3 separate regions of the Homo sapiens genome follow, and all the other regions are linked to region 1. The links come from fine-mapping of genetic effects on gene expression. A gene starts in region 1. Each other region holds a variant in brackets. All regions are shown on one strand. Distances are from middle to middle. Region 1 holds the start of CDRT4 (CMT1A duplicated region transcript 4). Region 2 overlaps TVP23C-CDRT4 (TVP23C-CDRT4 readthrough). Region 3 has its middle 7.5 kb from the start of TVP23C-CDRT4.

Evidence for each region. PIP is the estimated chance that this variant, and not a neighbour inherited with it, causes the effect.
Region 2: its variant is the best candidate, but not a certain one, in a credible set for the expression of CDRT4 in sun-exposed skin (GTEx, PIP 0.71).
Region 3: its variant is the best candidate, but not a certain one, in a credible set for the expression of CDRT4 in whole blood (TOPMed, PIP 0.75).

What each region holds. Positions count from the first base shown.
Region 1 is chr17:15,464,852-15,470,261 of GRCh38, reverse strand. It overlaps CDRT4 (CMT1A duplicated region transcript 4), which reads left to right and starts at 2,641. Exons shown (of 4, transcript NM_001204477.2): 1 at 2,641-2,802. All of the region lies in intron 4 of TVP23C-CDRT4 (TVP23C-CDRT4 readthrough), which reads left to right.
Region 2 is chr17:15,540,235-15,545,234 of GRCh38, reverse strand. All of the region lies in intron 4 of TVP23C-CDRT4 (TVP23C-CDRT4 readthrough), which reads left to right. It overlaps TVP23C (trans-golgi network vesicle protein 23 homolog C), which reads left to right. Exons shown (of 6, transcript NM_001135036.2): 6 at 4,674-5,000. The coding sequence ends at 4,823. Among named protein-coding and RNA genes, the nearest start is that of TVP23C, 21 kb to the left of the region's middle. RefSeq lists an enhancer at 4,005-4,630. The variant T/A (reference allele first, on the strand shown) is at 2,479.
Region 3 is chr17:15,568,239-15,573,648 of GRCh38, reverse strand. It overlaps a transcript of FBXW10B not described here. Among named protein-coding and RNA genes, the nearest start is that of TVP23C-CDRT4, 7.5 kb to the right of the region's middle. The variant T/C (reference allele first, on the strand shown) is at 3,277.

The sequences.
Region 1 (5,410 bases):
GGCCAAAGGGATACACCTGAGTCCATTTGGCCAGTTATTTGGGGTTCTGGGGCAAAAGGAAGAGCAGCCAATGTAAGTTGGGTAGGGGTGGGGGCTCTGGGCAGGCTCACCATGGATTTCAGGGGGATTCTCAGGTGGGGAGAGCTGCCTCGTGGCCCCTTCTTAGTGGTGTACGTTCTGGAATTTGCACTTTGATTTTTCTACTTATGAATTGTGTATCCGTGGGCAACTTACTGAACTGTGTGCCTCAGTTTCATCACTTTGTAAAATGGGGATTAGAGTAGTGGAAACTGCCTCGAAGGTATTCCTGGGAGTTTTGAGCCCAGAATAAGCTAGTGTGTGAAGAGTTGAGAGCAGTACCTGGCATGGGGTGTGTGCATGGGTGACCTGGAGCCAACTCTGGAACCCCAGCTTTTTAATTCATTCTGCCTTGAATGAAGGGGCTGGCTGCACTTAGTACCTGCCTGTGGGGAGGTTACCAAGCAGCCCAGTGCTGAGGCCAGCAAGATACACTGAGGGACCCCAGAAGCACTGAGGTCAAGTCCCTGAGTCCCATGGGGCATCTCTGGGTTGGTCAGCACTGGGGTCACATTGCATGTTTGCTCAGCTTGCCCCTTCTCAGTGCCAGTAGAAGCCCATGGTGAGCCCAGATACAGGATCTGTTGACTCACGGGGAATTTGCTGCCCACAGAGGAGGGAGAAATGCACCTCCCCAAAGCCAACAATCAAAGGCCAGGCAAGCCCTGTGGGAGGAAAATAACTTGGGCTACAGATTTTCTTTTCTGGGCTTGGAGTCTTGCCATGGACAACACAGAAACAGACATGATTAGCATCATGGCTTCCGGAAACACTGTGAGTGCGCACTAGCAGGTGGTGGGCTGATGTCACTCTCAAATGGCTTTCTCGAGTCCGAGGGTCTGGCTCCCTGCCGGGCCCTGGCCCATTGCACATCAGCGCTAGGTATAAGCAGCTCAGAGAGTCACTTCAAGCTGCAGAAGACTTCTGGGGTGAGTCTTTGGAGGTTCTTGTGGAACCACAGGGGAGGTCCCCTGCTCATCCGCTACACTTCACACCTGGCCTGTGCACTCAAAGATGTCCACTGTCTTCCCCAGACTTGCTGGGAGAGAGAGCAGAACCTTGTCAGACTGGCCCACCCCAACTCCCCCCCATCCCCCTCACCTGTGCATTTCCCGTAGCATTTCCAGACGCCCAGGCTGTCCCGCACCTCCGTGACTTTGCTCAGATCCTTCCCTTGTCTAGAACTTGTTTGAAGAACTGAATGGAGATACTCAGGGCTCAGGGACACTGAGCCACAAAATAGGGGCCCATGGAAAGGTTGAAGGCATGGCTCCGCTGACACGGGAGCTCCAGAGCGAGAATGAATTCAGGGAGTTTAGGGCTGGAGTTGAAGAGGAACTAGAGCCTGGAGAGAGGGGAGGATAGAGAAAGGCTTTTTGAGAACCGCAGCAATGAGGGCTCTGCCTGAGGCTCTAGGTACTGACTCGTGGGCAGTGAGGAGAGGTAGATTTTTGTTGGGGATCCACTTGATGTATGTTTTCTTACAACTAAATGATAAAACTGAGGCTGAAACACAGGTGTTTTCTGCCTGGCCTTTTTCTAGAATGCACCTCTCTCTGAAGATTATAGAGAACTATGAAGAAAAGGAGATCGTGGGAAATATATGATTGAGTCAGTATGATTTGGAGGAAGCTCAAGTGCTTGCTGTGGTTGCAGAGAAGTGAGGGGACTTTACATTCCTGGCTGGACAGGTTGAACTCTGGGATTGGAGAGGTGGTGGGGGAGTGGAGAGGAGCAGAAGGAACAGACACAGGGAGAGACATTTCAAAGGATTGTCAACAGGGCATGATGATAACACAGGGAGAGCAAGTCCAGCCTGTCTCCTGGTGCTGCCCCGAGTTGATGACTGCAATTAAACTGCCAGACTTTACAGCCTGCTCTGCACTGTGTCCTCCTGGCATCTTGGGGACTTTTTCACGGTTGGGGCCACAGGGGAGGTTAGAAGCTGCTCGCTCTCTCCATTGCCAAGCACTGGCCGGTCAATGGAGTTGGGGAGAAGGAGGCTAATTCTCAACAGCCTGTTAGTGACAGCCATTCTCTCTCCAGCTTATCTAAAGAGGATTTTATTTCAGAAGAAGGCTGAGAGCTTGTTAGAAAGGCAAGTTCTTGGGCCCCACCCCACATATACTGAATCAGAGACCCTGGGAGTGGGACCCAGCAATCTGTCTTAATAGACCTTCTAGGAGATTCTGGCACTAAGGAAAGAGACCACAGGTCTTGTCTATCTCTGTAGTTGGCTGCGTCTGGGCCAGAGTAACTGCTTGTTGAAATGATCAGAGATCTCAAATGAGGTCATGCATGTTGGGGTGTGTGTGTGTGCATGTGTGTGTGTTGTGTATCTTTATGTGTGTATGTGTTTGGTCTAGGGTCCAGCACATAGTAGGTGTTCACTCTTGGGGGTGGGAATAATCACTCTAATGTCCGTGTTTGAGGACTGCATTGCTGGTGACCGCTGAGCCTGCAGAGGAGGAAGAGAGCAGGGCAGAAGATTCAGGAGGGGGTGCATGGCAACTTCTGATGTCACAGTGCCCCCCTTCACTCCTGACTTCTGGCTCATGGGTCACTTTGGGGCAGGGGCAAGAGGATGGTTAGCTGCAGCAAAGAGAGAGCCAAAGAGAAGTGGGATTGAGAGCACAGGGGACAGCTGGAGACAAAATATAAACGCCGGGCAGGGGAACAGCCAAGATAGTGCAGGAAGGATGGGGAATCACAGAAACTTCTCAGGTAACAGTCTGGGCCAGAACACTGGGTGTCCCCAGAGAGGGAAGTCGAGGGTGAAAGTGAAAAGGCTCACACTCAACTTCCAGGAGAAGGTCAGGTCCTTCATCAAAGAATAATCCTGCCATTAAAGGGTCCCCAGAGTCCCCAGCATTACTTCCCTTAAGTGGATCCCAATCCTGGTCACCCAATCCCCTCAGGACTTTGTAAAACGTACTGATGCCCAACCCTTGCCAACAAGCTCGTCCCATTCCTAGGATTCTGATTTACTTTGTCTGCAGAGGGCTTGAGCTCAGGTATGTCTATAATGACAGCCAGGTGATTCTATTGTACACTCAGGGCTGACCACTCTACTTAAGCAAAACACACACACACAAAATATACCCCCGTTCCCCCCCATCCCCTGGGGGTGATGGGTTGGGGATGAGGGTGATGATGTTCCCACAGATGCATTACCTCTCCACAGAGCTCAGGACCAAAGGAATGTTTAGCCAGAACTGGTAAATACCTTTAAAAAATTATTAAGCACCTATAGAAACCTATAGGGACAAAGGTGACTAAGAGGATTTTTACAAAACAATAATAATCAAGTCACTTATTTAAAAATAATTAATCATGCTTGTAATCCCACCACTTAAGGAGGCTGAGGCAGGAGGATTGTTTGAGGCCGAGAACTCAAGACCAGCCTAGGCAACATAGCAAGACCCCGTTTCTACAAAAATAAAAATAAAAATAAATTAGCTGGGCATTGGTGTGCACCTGTAGTCCCAGCTACTCTGGAGGCTGAGGCAGGAGGGCCCCTTGAGTCCAGGTGTGTGTCTGTATTGAGTGTGTGTCTGTGTGAGCCCAGGAGTTTGAGGCTGCAGTGAGCCATGATCGTGCCACTGCACTCCAGCCTGGGTGTCAGTGAGACTGTCTCTATAAAAGTAAAAATTAAAAAAAGTAATTTAGAACAAGGAATAAAAGACACCAGTGAATGAAACAAAAAATTAGTAAGAAACCTTGCGATCCATGAATGCACCTTGGTGTAGATAGGGGTGGGGAGAAGAGAACAGAAGAGACTCGTTTCTGCAGATGAGGCAGCCCTTCCCTTCTCCCCATCTGGGTGGAAGCTGGCCCAGCGCCCAGGCTCCCACCCCAGGCAGTGTTTCTGGAGGCCTGAGCCCGAAGCCCACTGTTTGTGCTGGAAGCTCTTGCTTTACACTTGTTTGAGCTACATTGAGTCAGTATGAGAGAGGCAGATAGGTGACGCAGGTTAAGAACATGGGCAGCCGAGTCCCTGGGTTCAAATCCAGACTCTGTCACTTGTCAGTTCACCCACTGGCCTGGGTCAGGGAGCTGACCTGGGTCCCAGGTCGCAGGCTTCCTCCAGGCTTCCTGGTAGGCTCTGCCCTCCCTCCCCCTCCCTTTCCCTCCCTCTCCCTCCCTTTCTCTCCCTCCTTCAGGGATGTCTTCTAAGTGCTTACCACTTGTGCAGGGCACAAAGAGGGTTTCCCCACCAGCTGTAGAATGCTCAGGCCCTGTAACAACTGGATCTGCCCCCAGGTGCAGCAACTCTAGGATCCTCTGTTGCCCTCCTGCTGCTACCACCCTCAGGGGTCTGGAGTCCTCACGATGCGCGCTGCATGTCCTCCCCACGGTGGATGGCCAGGCTCCCTCCCCCTCTTCCCTGACCACAGCAAGAGCCCCTTGGCTGCCATATTGGAAGGCGTTAGCATGCGTGTCTGTGCATGTGTAGGCATATGTGTCTCCGTGTTTGTGATATGACTGTGTGTTTGTGTGTTTTGTGTGTTGTGTGTATCTTTGTGCGTGTGTGTCTGTGTTGTATGAATGTCTTGGTGTGTATCTCTGTGCTGGTGTATGTGTGTCTGTGTGTTGGTGTGTGTGTTTGTACCTAAGTGTCTTTGTTGTGTGTGTTTGTGTTGGTGTGTCTGGTATTGGTGTGGGTCTGTGTTGTGTGTGTCTGTGTTTGTATGTCTGGTGTTGATGTGTATCTCCGTTATGTGTGTCTGTGTGTTGGTGTGTCTGGTACTGGTGTATGTCTGTGTTGGTGTGTGTTGTGTGTGTGTGTTGGTGTGTGTGTTATGTGTGTCTGTGTTGGTGTGTCTGGTGTTGGTATGTGTCTGTGTTGTGCATGTCTGTGTTGTGTGTGTCTGTGTGTTGGTGTGTCTGGTGTTGGTGTGTGTTTGTGTTGGTGTGTGTGTTGTGTGTGTTGGTGTGTGTCTGTTGTGTGTGTCTGTGTGTTGGTGTGTGTCTGTTGGTGTGTCTGTGTTGGTATGTGTGTTGTGTGTCTGTGTGTTGGTGTGTGTGTGTTGGTGTGTCTGTGTTTGTATCTGTGTGTTGGTGTGTCTGTGTGTTGGTGTGTGTCTGTGTTGTGTGTGTCTGTATTGGTGTGTGTCTGTGTTGGTGTGTGTCTGTGTTATGTGTGTCTGTGTGTTGGTGTGTGTCTGTGTTGTGTGTGTCTGTATTGCGTGTGTCTGTGTGTTGGTGTGTCTGTTGGTGTGTGTGTCTGTGTGTTGGTGTGTGTGTGTGTTGCACCCACTTGCACTTTCTTGAACCCTGCTTGATGTCTGTGCCTCTGTTCCCGTATCCCTGCTGGTTCCTTTCTGTGCTG
Region 2 (5,000 bases), 75 kb before region 1:
TACTTCACTTGTGGGGTGTTCTAGCTCACAAGCTTTTACAATCTAGCCTAAGATGTCATAGCATTGCTTCTGCTGCCCACTCACATTCAAGGAAATGGGAATTAGGCTCTACTCTTGATAAGGAATAAGAAGGTGCTAGAAGACTTTGTGGAAGAGGAGATATTGTTGCTGCTGTCTTTGGAAAATATAGTTTGTCACTTGACCCAATTTGTGAGTCTTACTCTTTTTTATATCTCATATTGTTTTTTCTTATTCTATCTTATATCTGATATGAATAAATATTGTGTGAATTTTCACACAATATTTATTGATATCAGATATATTTTGGCCTTAATTATGTTTTTCCTCCTAATTTGTAGTATTTTCTTAGTCCTATTTTGTGATATAGATTCTTTTTTTCTTTGTGTGTGCTCATACATTCATACTTTCCTTCTTTGGATTTGGAAGCTTATTGGAAGCTTATTGTCTTTTTTCAGTTCTTCTGGTAGTTACCTTTAATTACTTTATATGTTATATCATTACCCTCTTTCATGAATTAGGAAATGTATTCAGTATTTATGGAGTTCCTGCTCTGGAAAATGGGAAACTTTACGCTAATATGGTTTCTTTAACTTCTCCCTCCTCCTACCTCTAGAGTTTTGCTTATTATAGTCTTATTTTAGTCCTTCTAGTGGTTTTCTTTGTAACATTAATTAATGTACTTAAACCTGTTTATTGACTTAATAGACTCTGTTTAGAAAGGGAAGAAAATAAACACTCATATTCCTTCCTATGAGTTTCCTCCTTTCTCTCTTGTTTGTTCCAATGTTATTTTTGTGTTACCAAGTTTTATAATAGTTATCTTTTGAAAACATATTTCTTACTGGTTGTTCAGTCTTTGATCTGTTTTTTAAAAAAGTCAATTCATTGCCTATCACCAGTCTTATTGCAGCTTCTCCTTTTACTTATTGGTTGGCTACATTTTCTTTTGACTCATGTTTAAACATATGAGCCTATTGACTATTCTTAAATGATGACCTGGCTGGATTAATATTCTTGGGTCACAGTTTGTTTCTTTTTGGAGGATGCTATTCCATCATTTTCTTTCACTGAATATCTTGGAGAAGTCTGAGGCCAGGCTTACTTAACCTTTGTAATCTCTCCTCATAAGGTGTTTTTTTTTTTAGTTCATGTAACCCAGATGTATTTGTATTTATCTTTCCATATCAAGTTTTCTGGAGTCTGTGCCTTTCTGACAGGCAGACTAAAGTTTTGCTTGGAATCAGGAAAATTTTTTCTGTTAAATCTTTGCATTTATTTATGTTCTATGGTTTGACCTTTTATTTTGAAGTACCAGTTACGTTTATGTTGGATCATTTTTATTTGTTTTCATCTACTATTTTCTTGTTGCTTTAATTATTCATCTTTTCCTTATTTATTCAGCAATTTTAAGAGTTCACTCTTATGTCAGAGCTGTCTGGGGACACAGGGGGACAAGTTAGGGGACAGTAAACAAGTTGACTGCTCCAGTAGAGCTTATGTTCTAGTGGAAGGTAGATAAACAGTAAAAAATACAGTAGGGGATGTTAGTTAATGATACAAAGTAATGGGGTAGAGAGTGCAGAGGAGAGAACAGTAACTATTTTAAGTGCTCAGCTAAGGCTTCTCTCTGTATTTCCTTAGCTTTGTCAGCTCCATTTTCATCTCCTGTTATCTCACCCTCATGCTTTTTGAGTTCTTTTCTTTAGGTTTTTCTGTAGGGTGAAATAGTCCCAGGAATGCTTTTATTTTGGTGGGTTTTTTTTCTTTTCGAGTAGATTCTTCACCTATCTTCTGTATACTATGCTTCTTTTTTCTTTTTTCGCTATAGTTTTGCATAAATGCACTTCCCTTTTTCCTTATCCATTTTGCTTATCCTTACAGTGACAGTCCTGTCCAGCCCTTCTCTTTCTGCTGGTTTAGTGCGGGTGAATCCCCCTTGACCACCTTCTCCTGATGTCTGAGGCACGTGGCTGCTGCTCTGAGCTGGAGTTGCAGTGCTGGGTTTGGTAGCCTGAAGGCACAGGTGTGATGTGCGATGTGGAGAACTTACCAGGCTCTTGCTGTCTTGGCTGGGCTGCCTGGTTTTGCGTTCTCTTCCTTAGTGGGGCTCTTGTCTGCTGGTTGGCTGTGCACTCTCTTCTGGTTCTTCCCTTCTGCTTTGGATTGTTTGTAAGACCTTAGAGCTTTAGCATCCATCCAAGAGAGTGAGCCCAGTCTTTTTCTAGCAGTGTTTCTACTTCCTTAAAACAAAACAGGGAGAGGTTATGTGAAAGCCAGTTTGATCCTGTGTTAACCTACTTATGCCTAGTGTTCCATTATTGGAACGCTAAGCATGTAGGAGTTATTTATATCCTACTGCTCAAGGTAATCACCAAGGTCTGATTTTTCACTCATGCAAAAATTCACAAAATTGCAGCCTACAGCATAAATGGGTTAAGACCTTGGCATGGTGGCTCA[T/A]GCCTGTAATCCCAGCACTTTGGGAGGGCCAAGGCGGGCGGATCACGAGGTCAGGAGATCGAGACCATCCTGGCTAACACGGTGAAACCCTGTCTCTACTAAAAATAAAAAAATTAGCCGGGTGTGGTGGCAGGCACCTGTAGTCCCAGTTACTCGGGAGGCTGAGGCAGGAGAATGGAGTGAACCCAGGAGGCGGAGTTTGCAGTGAGCTGAGATCGTGCCACCGCACTCCAGCCTGAGTGACAGAGCGAGACTCCGTCTCAAAAAATAAATAAATAAAAATAAATAAATAAAAATAATAAAAATAAATGGGTTAAGACCACAGGACGGGAATGGGCTTCACCCAGTCTCTCCATGAGTCTCCCACCTCCTCACTTCTCTTAAGATGATCATCTCTCATGATTATTGATCCTTCTGCGCTTCGTCTCCTGCCTTCTTCCCACCCGGTGGCACCACTATGGCCAGCTGCAGGGATTTTCCTGCCTGTTTGGGTCATTGTTAGTTGGGAGGAGTTTCTGCTGTCATGGCTATTTCTGCATTTTTTTCTCGGGTCTTTTGCTTTTCTATAAGTTCCTGGGGATGGTAATTATTAGTGAAATTTTCCTTAGAGCTTCTTTGCAGAGTTTGGAGCTATGTAGAGCTGCTCCAACCTGGCTCTTTCTTTGGCCACCAGCCCTTTTTTGTGTTTGTTGGTATTAGTTTATTTGTGTTTTTAAAAACGCTGTTTGCTGTTTGTACCTTAAGGGCAGGGAGATCTTCATGTCTGACTTCACTGCACCATCTTAAACCAGAAGTTTAACTTACAGATTTTAACATTTGTTGCCATTGAGTAAATCGATGCCTTAGCAGGACCCGTGATTGGTCTTTGAATTCAGGTGTACCCTGGCATGTTGATATATACAATACCCAGCAGTGCCCCATTTGAGAAGCATGGGAAATTAAAAGGAAATTTATTCAAATAAATACACAGTTTTATATTTATTTAGGAAACTAGCACCCTCTTATTACACTAACACGTTTAATTCCATGAAACATAAGTTTAGAACAGAAAGTACCACCTCCTCTTCTTTTACTAGGAATGTGAACCTGTTCATTAATCAAACATTTAAATCTATTAATTAAACATTAAAATCAGCTATACATCTTGTTAAGGGTAAGGAGAATAAATCTAGATTGGAAAACGACATTTCATTGAGCTGCTTTGCTTGTCACAGATATAAAAGAGTAGAATGGTCGATGAGCTGTTTATTCCAGAACAAGGGTTGGCAAACTATGGCCTGCAGACCAAATCCAGCCCGACACCTGTTTTTGTAAGTTTTTATTGAAAAACAGCCTTGCCCACTTATATATTGTCTATGGCTGCCTTTGGATTAGAACAGCAGAGTTGAGTAATTGCAACAGAGACCGTATGGTCTGAAATATTTATGATTTGACCCTTTACAGGAGAACTTTGCTGATCACTGTATTAGAGTCTTTAACCTTGGGAATCCCTCACATTGTCTCAATTTTTCTAATTAAGATTAATTAGAAATTTTTAAAGAATGGGTTTTGAGTTTCTTTTTCTCACTTCTCATTGATCCTAGTGGGATCACCATAGGTGAGAAAATGAAACTCAAAGGAACAAACAGCTCTGCAAAAGTACAGTTCCCCTTGGAGCTGTCTCTCTCCTCGGGGAAGGCAGGCATCGGTTGATTTATGCCTTAGGGCATTGCATCCCCTCTACCAGAAGCCAGTTGTCACGTAGAGCAGAGATTCACCCCTACCTGCTCTCAGTTTATTGAACTTGATCTACCTCTTGACTGTTCTTTTGTAATTCCTATAGGAATAATTAACATTTGAACCTTTCCTGAGTCTCATTTACTTTTCCTAACTTTACTCACAGACCAATGGGAAACAGAGAGCAAGAAGGCTCCCCCTGCACTGCATCCCCAGCAGCTAGCATGGTGCCTGGCACATAGAGCAGTTGTGTCCAGTAAATATTTGCTGGGTGAATGACTCGTGCCTTGTGCAGAGCGTCTATCAGATGGGTCTGTTCTGGCAACTGTCTCTGGAAAATCTCAACTGGCACAATCATGGCTTTGCAGAGCTTCCTCTTCCTTCTCTTTCTCATGACAGTCTGCCTTGTCTCATTTATGGCACAGAGAAAGGTCAATTTCAGGCCAGTAACCGTTGATTATTTTTTTCCCTTGTCCCAGGCGGTGGTTATTATGGGTGTGGTGCTACAAGGTGCCAACCTGTATGGTTACATCAGGTGTAAGGTGCGCAGCAGAAAGCATTTAACCAGCATGGCTACTTCATATTTTGGAAAGCAGTTTTTAAGACAAGTAAGTGTTTTCTGGATGTGATCAGTGACTAATGCAATTATTTCTAACTTTCATAGTTTAATTTTTATGAAACGCTCCTGAACAGAAGTTTTAAAGGCATATAGTTGTATAAATATAATGATAAAGATGTTGTAATTGCTCTTTGGGGGTGTTCAAGACAGTCTGGAAGTGTATTGTCAGTATCCTAAAATTATTTTA
Region 3 (5,410 bases), 100 kb before region 1:
CAGATGCATTTTCAATTTCTTGAAACAGTGGAGCTGCAGTTTATTCAGTTTATTTAGGTCAGCCCTAAGGTGAAACTATATTACATTCAAAATTATCCTTTAAAATCCCCTGAACTCATCCATAAAGTACATGGAAGGTTATGTATGTACAATTCTGGAAAATAATGACTGTGTTCACTAGAGTTTGAGAATCACTCAGTTAAATTAAGAGGGAACAAAAGAAAAGCCTATATTTAGATGGCTGGGCATTCAAACCATTCCGCCTTTAAGGAGACTCTCAGTAGAGGAGAGGTGGAGAATTCTATGGGGTTCTGTTTCCCTGTGGGGTTTACTCTATTATTCTTCATGCTACAAGCATCGGCAGCCTGGCTAAACAGAAATGTATTTCTGTTGGTGCTGGCTGTGAGGATTTGACTGAACAGGGGAGCTGCACCTTCTCTGGGATTACATTCTAATGTCACCTCTGCTCCTCTCCCTTATAATGAATTACAGGTAGACAGAGCTATAGCACTGTAACAAAGGTGAAGATACACATAGGCAATAGAGACGGGAACGTTTCAGAGAAGAGTAGGCAATGGTAGCCAGCCTGAATTTTGAGCTGAGTAACAGAAGAACTTCACTTCTGCTGTGACCACCCTGGTCCAAGCTATCATCAAGTCATGCCAGGAGCTGCCCCAAGTCTCTCTCCTGGGATTCTATGGTCTATTTTACCCAGGCAGCTGAGGGGTTCTTTTAACCTAAATCTGATCACACCAGCCCCATTTGTACAACTTATTTCTGGCTTCTCCCACTGCACATGGAGTTCCAGCCCTTCTGTCTTCATCTTGTGCCACCCTGCCCCTTGTTCATTATGTTCTCACCACACTGGCCTTTCTATTTATAGTGTCAGGTAGAAGCCCACTCTGGCCACCGTACGTTCCCCCAGATCTCTGCATCACTCTCCTTCAGTTCTCAACTCCAATCCACTCCCTCCCAGTGCCTTCCCGCTCTGGAGTGCTCTCTCCCAATTGTTCTGTATTATCATTCTGTCTCTTTCCTTGGCACCATTGATGCCCACCTAGAATGATCTTTTAGAGCTCAACTGTTCACTGGCTAAAGTTCTACCTTCCCCACCGGACGGGAATGAAGGCAGGGATCAGGTCATGCTGGTCATATTCCAGCATTTAGCACAGAGTGTAACATCCAGAGATGCTGAGGACACAATTCTGAAAAAAGTAGTAACAATGATGACAGCAGTATCATTTACTGACGGCTTTATAAGAACAGTCGTTTTCTCACATAACTCTATGAGGTGGAAGGCACGAACCTCATTTTATAGGCGAGGAAACAGAGCCTCAGAGAAGTTTAGTAATATGGTCAGGGTTGCATGGTGAAGCAGGCGGAGGAGCTAGGCTTTGATTCCAGGCAATCGGACCCCAAAATCTTATGTTCTACAACATTCTATTCCCCAAGGAAAAACCAAGTGCTCTGAAAATCTAGTCTAAAACAGACTATAATTTTCAATACACAAATTTACCCATTGCAAGTGTACAGTTAGTTCTGAGTTAAAAAAAAAAAAAAAGGTAAACATAGTGTAACCACCACCACAATCAAGATATGGAACATATAAATTTATCTTTTCAAAAAGTTTCTTATGCCCCTCTGTAGCCAATTCCCTCCTGTCCCCCGCACCCCTCCCCCCACCGCCGTTTCCCAGTAACCACTGATCTTACTTCTGTGCCTAGTTTTGGCTTTCCAAAATGTCATATAAATGGAATCATACGACATGCTGTCTTTTGTCTCTGTCTTCTTTCACTTAACATAGTGCTTTTGAAACACACCCGTGTCACTGCACGTACCAGTGGTTTGTTCCTTTTAATTTCTGAGTAGTATTTCAGCCGTAATTTGTTTATCTATTCATCAGCTGAGGGATGTTTAGGTTGTCTTTAGTGATATTTAAGCTAATATTCATGTACAGATCTTTGTATGGACATGTGTCCATACATACACAGGAATGGGATTGTATGGTAAATTTTGTTTAAATTTATTGAAATCTGCCAAACTGTTCTTGGAATTGATTGTACCATTCTGCATTCACACTAGCAATAAACGAGAGCTTCAGGTATTCTACACCCTTGTCAGCACTGTATTGTTGTTTTTAATAAATGTTAATTATGCTAATAGGCGTGTAGTGGTATCTCATTGTGTTTTTAATTTGCATTTCCCCTATGATTACTGACGTTGAAAATCTTTTGCTTATTTAACGTCTGTATTTCTTCTTTGGAGTAGGGCCTATTTAAATCTTTTACGCACTTTTTTTTTTTTTTGACAGGGTCTTGCTGTGTCACCCAGACTTGAGTGCAGTGGCATGATCTTAGCTGACTGCAACATCTGCTTCCTGGGCTCAAGTGATCCTCCCTCCTCAGCCTCCCAAGTAGTTGGGACTACAGGCACATGCTGCCATACCTAATTTTTTAAAAAAATTTTGTAAAGATGAGGTCTCACTATATTGCCCAGACTGGTCTCAAACTCCTGGGCTCAAGCAGTCCTCCTGCTTTGGCCTCCTAAAGGGCTAGGATTACAGGCGTGAGCCACTGTGCCCGGCCCCTTTTGTCTATTTTTAAGGTTGTTTTCTTAATGAGTTTAAGACTTCTTTCTATATTCTGTACATGAGTTCTTCATCATGTCTGTATTTTACAAATGTTATCTCCTACTCTGTGGCTTGTATTTTCATTTTAAGTGTCTTCTGAAGAGCAGAAGTTTTTAATTTTGATGAAGTACAGTTTATCTACTTTTCTTGCATGGTTTGTGGCTTTTGTGTTTTATCGAAGAGTCCTCTGCCGAGCCCAGTTTCACTGGGGAGCAGCCCATGTTGTCATGCTGGAAGTGGAATTCCACAGCTGATTTTGGAATACTGACCTTGTATTCTATACCCTTGCTAGATTTACTTATTACTCCTAGTAGCTTTTCTGTAGATTCCTTTGAATTTTCCACATAAACAATCACATTGTGAAAAGAATTTCATTTCTTTCCAGTGTATGTGCCTTTTCTTTCTCTCTCTTGCCTTATTATATACTAGTCAGGAGCTCCAGAACAACACTGACCAAGGTCCAGTTCCTATAGAACAGCCTTCACAGTGTAGTCTGGTCTGTACATTTTCCTTAACCTCTTCCCAGTTTTACTTCCTCACAATTCTCCTATATACATCCTTCCCTCTACAGCTGGCCAGGTTGCCTGTTTTTATCCTTACACATATATTTTGCACTCCCATCTTTGCATTTTTGCTCACCATGTTCA[T/C]CTTGCCTGACATGGTCTTTGCTTCATTCTCTACCTATCCAAAGTCTGTCTGTCTGTCAAGGTCTACAGCGTGTCTCTCTATCTTGATGTTCATTTTGTCTCTTCGCTCATTCTCCACTCCTGTCCGAATGGCCTTCTCATCGCCTTGACAGCAGATGCCATGTATTCCTTCTTTGGTATCTTTACTTCTGTATTTCTCCCACCTAGGAGGTCATTTCTTTCTCTTATCATCCATCCACCTGTCCATCCATCCATTATTAAGCATTAGCTACCTGCCAGGTATAATGGCTAGCATGCAAGCTCCACGATAGCAAGAATTTTTCTGTTTTGTTCACCTCTGTAATATAGTATTGAAAATGGTGCCTAAAACTGTTCGTGTGACAAGAGCATTAATACCCAGAATGTACAAGGAATTCAAACAACTCAATAGTAAAAACAAACAAACAAACAAATAATGCCATTGAAATGTGGGCAAATGACATCACATTTTTTGAAAGAAGACATACATGGTGGCTCATGCCTGTAATCCCAGCACTTTGGGAGGCCAAGACAGAAAGATCACTTGAGGCCAGGAGTTTGAGACCAGCCTGGGCAACATAGTGAGACACTGTGTCTACAAAAAATTTAAAAACAAAATTAGCTGGGTGTGTTGGCTCGCACTTGTAATCCCAGCACTTTAGGAGGCCGAGGCAGGAGAAACGCTTGAGCCCAGGAGTTCGAAACCGGCCACACAAAGTAAAAAAAAATTACCTAGGCCCAGCGACTGGCACCTGTAATTCCAGCTACTTGGGAGGCTGAGGTGGGAGGATCACGAGTTCTGGAGGTTAAGGGTGCAGTGAGCCATAGTCCTGCCACTGCATTCCAGCCTAAGTAACAGAGCAAGACCTGTCTCAAAAAAAAAAAAAAAAAAAAAAAAAGAAAAAGAAAAAGAAAAAAAGAAGACATACGAATAGCCAAAAGGTATATGAAAAAATGCTCAACATCACTAATCATCAGAGGAATGCAAATTAAAACCATACTGAGATATCATTTTACCCCAGTCAGAAGAGCTATTGTTATCATAAAAAATGAAGATGTTGATGAGGATGCAGAGGAAAGGGAACTCTTACACACTGTTGACGGGGCATGTAAATTAGTATAGCCTCTATGGAAAATAGTATGGCGATCTCCCAAAGAACTAAAAATAGAACTACCATTTGATCCAGCAATCCCACTACTGAGTATCTACACAAAAGGAAAGAAATCAACATTAATCAAAAAGATACCTGTACTCATGTTTATTATAGTACTTTTCATCACAGCAAAGATATGTGTTTTGTCTTAAATATGTTTGGTGAAACAGTGATCACTTACGGAAGACCTATCTGCCAGTTGAGTGGAAGACAGATGGAAGGAGGGTTAGGAAGAAGGCAGAGAAGTCAGCTGGGATGTGCTGTAATAACCCACGCAAAACCGATGATGGGCTGAAGCTAAAGCACTGAGGTGAGAGGGCACAGATTCCAGGGTAAATCAGGGGGTTGAAAAGACACAATCTGTTGAGTAATCAGATGAAGGAGATAACAGAAAAAGAGTGCCTAGGATGGCTTATAGGTGCCTGACTTTGGAACATAAATTAAGGTATTAAGGAAAAAGATTTGGGAAAGAAAGTGAATTGGGGTGAATACACACAAAATGTGAGCTGCCTGCAGGGGCAGCCCAATAGATTTTCAGAGGAACTAGGCTCAGAAAAGCAATCTGGGTTGGAGGTACAGACAGTGTGGAGTGTAGCAAATGCAGGGAAGTGAGATGAGGAGGAGATTAAGGACCACCAAACTAGAGTAGGTGGAGGAGGAAGGAACAGAAACAAGAGCTCAGCAGGGAACAGGCAGAATGGCTTATTTCTTACTCAACCTCTGGTTCTCAGCTTCAAGACGCATTCCCTGAGAAGTAATCCTTGGTCTCCTCAGTTTGAGGTAGATACTTCTCTTTGTGCTCCCACGTCACACTGGGCCTGTCCTTGTAGTATTTAGCACATTACACACATATGAGGTGCTTCATGACTCAGAACCCCACAAGACACAGAAGTGTGCCTTAGTCACCACTGCACCTCCAGGGTCGAGCACCATGCCTGGCTGGCATGTGCACTAAAAAACCA